2 linked regions of the Homo sapiens genome follow. The protein of the gene in region 2 purifies or fractionates together with the protein of the main gene of each other region. This does not show direct contact. Each region holds a gene or a part of one and is shown on either strand. Other genes may lie near its edges.

Region 1 (3,348 bases), on a different chromosome or scaffold from region 2:
CAGGAGTTGCGGGAAGGTCTGGGAGGCCCAGGGTGCTGGGGAGGAAGCTGGGCCCGGAGCCTAGGTCCTGACCACTGTCATGCTCTGTGTGCAGGTGAACTTCTACGGGGACCACACCAAGCTGATTCTCAGTGGCTGGGAGCCCCTCCTTGTGACTTTTGTGGCCCGAAATCGTAGTGCTTGTACTTACCTCGCTTCCCACCTTCGGCAGCTGGGCTGCTCTCCAGACCTGCGGCAGCGACTCCGCTATGCTCTGCGCCTGCTCCGGGACCGCAGCCCAGCCTAGGACCCAAGCCCTGAGGCCTGAGGCCTGTGCCTGTCAGGCTCTGGCCCTTGCCTTTGTGGCCTTCCCCCTTCCTTTGGTGCCTCACTGGGGGCTTTGGGCCGAATCCCCCAGGGAATCAGGGACCAGCTTTACTGGAGTTGGGGGCGGCTTGTCTTCGCTGGCTCCTACCCCATCTCCAAGATAAGCCTGAGCCTTAGCTCCCAGCTAGGGGGCGTTATTTATGGACCACTTTTATTTATTGTCAGACACTTATTTATTGGGATGTGAGCCCCAGGGGGGCCTCCTCCTAGGATAATAAACAATTTTGCAGAATTGGACTCCCCCTCACTCGCAGTAGAGCCCGTGGACCGTGGCCACCGCGAAGAGCGAGGTGTTGGTGTAGGAGACCGAGGCCAGCCCATCGCGCGCCACGTCCCAGAGCGCACGGCTGACCACGTGAACGCCCTGGCCCGCGCGCGGCCCCAGCACCACACTGCATACCAGCTTGTAGCGTGGCGGGCTGAGCTCGCGCAGGCGAACGTGCACCTGCTCGCAGAGCTCCCGCACCAGCCGCGCGGCCTCGTCGCTGGAGTAGCACGCGTCGTGCAGCCCTGCGGCCAGCGCCGCCTCCAGGGCACGCTGTGCACGCGCAGCCTCCCAGCGCTCCCCGGGCACTGGCTCCGTGCGGTAGGAGGGCGCCACCCAACGGGCGGGCGCCAGGGGCAACCCTGAGAAGCTGACCCTTGAGCCCAGAGGGGGCACCGGGCCCAGGGATGGCCGCTGACCCCCAGGACCCGCGCCTGGCCCGACCAGCGAGTTGCGGCGGGAGAAGGACGCGGCCAGGCCCAGCATGGAGCCCCGGCGCGAGGCCGGGGCTGGACCTGGACCTGCCGGTCGGGCCTCATCAATGCTGGGCAGGCAGCCTCGGGGCCGCACCGGTGAGGGTTTCCGCCCGGAGTCTTTGGCATTCTCCTCCTCCTGGCGTCCCGGGGGCAGAGGCCTGCTGGCCATGGACCTGCTGGCTGGAGGAACCACACTCAGGGTGGCCTTCACCAGGCATCTGTCTACCCACCCCAGCCTCTTGCTCAGTGATGTCAAGGGTTTTTACCTTCTACCCCCTTCTTACCTGTGTTTTAGAACAAGTGGATCAGATAGTCCCAGGCTGCCTGGGTTCCTAGGTGCTGAGAAGGTTAAAGGCTGTTAGACACATGAGCAGGGGACAGGAGGCTGCTAGGACTGGGATCCTCGGCTAGTCCTTGCCGACTGAGCTCCTTCTCTGGGCACTATGGAAGTTAGCCAGGTACGCTCGGAGTCTTAGAGACTGCCATTTCTCCCTTCCACCCGACTTCTCTGGAAGGAGAGGCAGGCCTCTGCCTCAGCCTGGACTGTGGAGGCAGAGCCTCCAACCCCTAACCAGGAAGGACTGACAGACTCAGCTCCTTCAACCCCACAGATCCTTCCAGCCCTGGGGGTGTTGAATCCAGTCATCTTCCACCCAGATCTACTCTAGGGTGGCTGGCACAAAGATCTCCCCTACACCTGGCCCAGGCTGAGGGCAGATGACTCATGAAGCCCCCTTCCACCTTCTGCCTTTGGCCTCTGATCCCACTTCCTCCAGAATCAGTTCTGAGATGGCTGCCCTCTGCTCCCGAAACTCCCTCAGGCACCTGAGTCACCCGCAGGCTTTGGCTTCTGAGTTCTGTCCTGGCTGCACAGCCCTGGCCCCGCTGGCCTGAAGGGCAAGTGGGAGGGGAAAGACCTGTGTTGTGGAGTTGCCATGGGTTGCTAGAGCAAACACTCCTCCCTCCCAGGATCCCTCCCTCCAGTCTGGCTCTGGCTTAACCTGAGAGCATTGTTGCTGTGAGCATGTGCTGAGCATGGGGTGCCCCTGAGTCATCAGGGAGAGCGGCCGACAGGGTCTTGCAGCTTAGAGGCAAACTTCCTAAGCGCAGGCAACAGAGGGGCAGATGTAGAGCAAGGCTGTGGTCAGAAAGGCTTTGTCCTACCCCAGGACTCTTGAGCCAGGGCCCATTTTCTCCCCTTGTGGAATGGCCAGATGACTGGCCATTCGTGAACAAGTCACAGAGGCCTAGGTTAGGGGGAGATCTTGAGGCTGCGGGGGTGGTGGCTCAGGAATCCAGAGTCTGGGCCCACAGGAAGGAACACGTCATGGCTCTGTTGTCTCCCCATCGGCCTCGACAAGGACAAACATTTCCGCTCCCGGCGCAGAGTTAGGGTGGGGCTTGGATGACTTCCTCAGTTCAGGGCTATGTGCGGGGGAGGGGAGGCCCACTGGCTCAGCTGGTAGGCACCAGGCCTTATAAAGTGGCAGTGACTCGGCAGTGAACCCCGAGTCCAGCCTCGTGACCTTTGCTGACCCAAGTGTCCTGGGGCTTGTCCCTAGCTGGCTACACCTCTAGTACCTAGGTTTCCCCAAAGTTACATTTCAGAGATGGCAGAGGCTGTGACACCTCTGCCAGGGCTGACAACTCATGTGACTCCTCCTCTGGCAGGGATGGGACTGTCCCCTCCCAAACAAGCCAGGTCGGGGCCCTGACCCATCTATGGGGGCGAGGATTTTCCCTGTTGAGTGGGGGTTTCCCCGGCCTGGCTAACCGGATCCTGACCCTGTGTGCCTGTGGAGGAGGGAAGGGTTAGGAGGGCAAGGAGTTTGAACTCTGAACCTAGGGCAGGCTCAGCTTCGGGGGCTAAGACCCTCGTATGGCGCTTAATGCCCCTCTAAGGGCTGAAGTTTTCCCTGGGCCTGCCCGGGAGATGGGTGGAGTCTCTTCTCAGGCCAGCTCCAGTTTCCATGGAAACCCACAGGCTTCCCACCCCGTCGGCTGCCTGGGCAGACTCCCAGCCAGGGCCTCTTTCGCCGCCGCCGCCGCCGCCAGCCAGCCAGCTTCTTCCCAGGACCATAGGCCACTCCAGCCTCAGCTTCTCCTGGCCCCCTCCCTGTGTCTGTTCCTGTCCCCGAGCCTCTGGCCTCTGATGCCTTCAGGAGCTTGGGCCTCTCCTGCTCCACTCCTAAACTTCAGCTTCTCAGCAAACAGGCCTCCCAAGTCCCTGCTTCTCCCTCT
Region 2 (3,500 bases):
CTTAAGGAGGCTGAAGCTCGACAATCGCTTGAGTCCAGGTATTTGAGACCAGCCTGGGCAACATGGCAAGACCTGGCTCTACAAAAACTTTTTTAAAAATTAGCCAGGTGCAGTAGCACACGCCTGTAGTCCAAGCTACTTAGGAGGCTGAGGTGGGAGGATGGTTTGAGTCCAGGAGGCTGAGGCTGCAGTGAGTCATGATCACGCCACTGTACGCCAGCCTGGGTGACAAAGTGAGACCCTGTCTCTTTAAAAACAAAACAAAACAAAAAAACTCTCTCTCTCAAAGTCTATTCTGCACCCATTTTTCCAATGAGCTTAAATTAACATTGTTTGTGGTTTACTTCCTTATTTGGGAAGGATAACTTTTATTACAATTTGGTACAAGGGATTTAAAAAATTTTTTTTGATTAATTAATTTTTGAGACAGGGTCTTGCTCTATTGCCCAGGCTGGAGTGCAGTGGTGTGATCATAGCTCACTGCAGCTGGAAACTCCTGGACTCTAGCAGTACTCCGGTCTTAGAATCCTGAGTAGCTGGGATCACAGGCAAGTGCCACTGTACCTGGATAATTTTTAAATTTTTTTTGCAGAGATGGGATCTCCCTATGTTGCCTAGGCTGGTCTTGAACTCCTGGCCTCCAGCTATCTTTCTACCTCAGCCTCTCAAAAGTGTTGGAATTACAGGTATGAGCCATTGTGTCTGGCCAAAAAATTATTCTTCTCGAAGACTAACAAATGCTCCAGTATTTTATGGAAAAGTTTAATACAGCTCTAAAAATTCGTTTGTATTCACAGGTACACTCTGTTTTATGCTTAATTTTTGAGGAACTAAACGAAACTGGGTTTCTATAAATGCGATTATCAAATGTTTATATACTTAAATTTACTAGCAGGGCCTGAAGCAAAAAGAACACATAAGTAACTTTTTAAAAAATACTACCATCTACTGAGCAACTGTTAAGTACAAAGCTCCACACTGAATGCCTTATGTACATTATCTCATGATAATCCTTGTGGGAACAATATTATCCCCCCATTTACAGATGAGGAATCTGAGGCTTCAAGAAGTAACTTACCCAATGTCATGCAGTTAGTAAGGCACTGGGCCAGAACTTGAGCTAGGCCCATCATGGTTCTAAGCTTTGTGCTCTTAACTACTGAAATATACAACCTTAAGTTAAATGTTTTTTTCTACTTGGATGCCCTTTAATTTCACTGTTATTCAATCTATGATTTTGTATTTAGAGGTAGACAAAGCAGAGGAAAAGACAAAACAGGTACAGGTGTGCCTTGCAGTATCAACTGACAAGCTTCCTAAATGGATTAAAGATAGTCAAATAAGGGATAAAGGATCAAATAAAGGATAATGAAAACTCTCCTTGACCTTAGTCCTTATGTTGCCAAGAGAAGTTGCCTGTAGCCATGTTCTTGGTAAAACAACTTACCTTGAATCTGAGGTCAGTGGAATAGACAGGCATGTACCATTAACAGTGAGCCTTCATGAAACCATTTCCTATTGTAGCTAGCAACATAAACTCACTCCATATTTACTCTATTCTCTAATAAAGATCATAGCTTTATCGTGTTTTCTGCTACAGAAACATTTAGACATTTCCAGACAAAGTAGATGACAGCAAGCAAAAACATCAAATCTTATCATTTACTCTGCCATCAGCGGAGCATTAAAATATTCTCCTTTGCCCTGTGAGCACAAGGCTTGGCGAGTATGTCCTAAAGGAACTGAAGGAGTCCTAAAGTCATGGTTCCGGGCAGAACACTTTTCATTCCACTGGAGGTGACCGTGAGTCAGATACTTACTTATCTACAAGAGTCCGTATTACTGCCAGTGTGTCCAACACTAGCCCATCCACATTTTGTTTCTTTCTCCTTGGCTCATGAGGTCCTCGGCCCCTCCTTGGTGGCCGAACAGGGTCCCGTGGTTGGCTCCTTGTGTCAGCAGTGGGTACTGCACTGTTCTCGGCCTGTTGCTGTTGGGTGTCAACACTGTCATCTGTTCCACTGTCATCTCGGCAGATACAGGAATTACCCATGGTAGTAGCGGCACCTCCAGTCCCTAGGAAGTGGGCTATGTGCTCTTCGAGAGTCAACAACAGACCCTGGCCAAGGCTTCTGCTCGCTAAGAACACGGCCCAACCAAAGACGATCATTTAGGTAGTTTTCAGTTTTCCAAGTACTGTTTTCATAACCTGGAGTTGAGGAATTTGCATCCTATTTGTTTTTAACAACTGAATGCCAAAGAAAGTTGCAGAGCTTATTCCCAACATTATCAACTACAGGGGATTCTGGACATCCAATGGCAGTTCTAAAAGAAAATGAGAAAAAGGAAAATGAATAAAAGATTCTTGACCACTTAATTACTCAAATTTTCCTAGTCTGATTTTATAGATATTAGGATTCTAATGAAGAATTATCTTTGGTTATTTTTATAGGTTTCCAATACAAAGAGATAGCTTTGGATAACAGAATTCGCAATCAATCAATAATTTCTTTTTATCATTCTGTTACAAAGTTGATTGCCAAACCATATTCTTATAGACCAGAGGAGTTATCATTGATTTTTTTAAAACCACATGTATAGTTTTTCCTGTCTATATAGAAATACATTAGAAGGATGTGTGCATTTTTTTTCAAGGGCTCCTTTTATCATAAAAAAAGAGTTGTCTTTCTGTGTAAGAGGTAGGTGTTAAAAAGAGAAAAATCTTTAAAAAAATGAATTAACTCCTTTCTTTAAACCCATAGGATAATTTAACAAGTTTTAAATAAAATAATTACAGACGTTTGTTGTTAAAAAAAAGTTATGATACAAATATGATAGCACCATTTGATATCAAGGAGAATAAAAGGATAGAGTTTCCCATTGGAAGCTCACTCAAGAACTGACAGAATTCATACAAGTTGTTGCAAAGTGTTTCTGTTATGTAAGCAAGGCTTTGTTTTGGGAAAGGAAAACTGATATCACAAAAGTTGTATTTTCACAATGATCAGTTTGTTGCACATGTCTATTACAAAGTTCAGAATAAGATGCACCAATTTATCTTTGCCTGAAAATACTGACTAAGGACCTTGTGCCAGGTACCACGCTGGACTAGGAGAATAAAGATGAGTAAGGAATAGTTCCTGCCCTCCAGGAATTCATGGATGGCCATTCTCATCCCACAAAGTATGTTTATCATTAAAAACCTAATGAAAGAACCAGCTCTTCAAGAAGCTGGTAAAATCTGGTTAGATTCTGGAAGGAAGTAAAGATTTAGAAATAGGAGACTTACATGGGCTGGTAGCAAAAAGTAAAAAAACAAACAAACAAACAAAACAGGCTGACAGCTGGAGAACAGGCCACATAAGGAATAGACTATGCTAGTGTGTAGTCTCTACACAACATCTGGCTAGTTACAATTAATTCCTCATACCTTGAGCACTGACCAGGAATAATATAAACAAAATTTATAATTCAGTGGAATTAGAAGAGAAATATTACTC

What was found. Proteins that work in one complex are often made in the same cells at the same time.
Region 1: the proteins of RSPRY1 (region 2) and DYNLT4 purify together in Homo sapiens (co-immunoprecipitation; one large-scale study listed by IntAct). This does not show direct contact.

The regions. Positions count from the first base shown.
Region 1 is NC_000001.11:44,805,393-44,808,740, forward strand, and holds DYNLT4 (dynein light chain Tctex-type 4), read right to left. Parts: upstream 1,960-3,348; 5' UTR 1,933-1,959; exon of another isoform or gene 1,447-1,932; 5' UTR 1,392-1,446; exon of another isoform or gene 1,288-1,391; 5' UTR 1,277-1,287; coding exon 611-1,276; 3' UTR 501-610; downstream 1-500. Other genes in the region: serine/threonine-protein kinase PLK3, read left to right, coding at 95-286.
Region 2 is NC_000016.10:57,203,329-57,206,828, reverse strand, and holds part of RSPRY1 (RING finger and SPRY domain-containing protein 1 isoform 1 precursor), read right to left. Parts: intron 2,326-3,500; 5' UTR 2,171-2,325; coding exon 1,821-2,170; coding exon of another isoform or gene 1,817-1,820; exon of another isoform or gene 1,448-1,816; intron 1-1,447.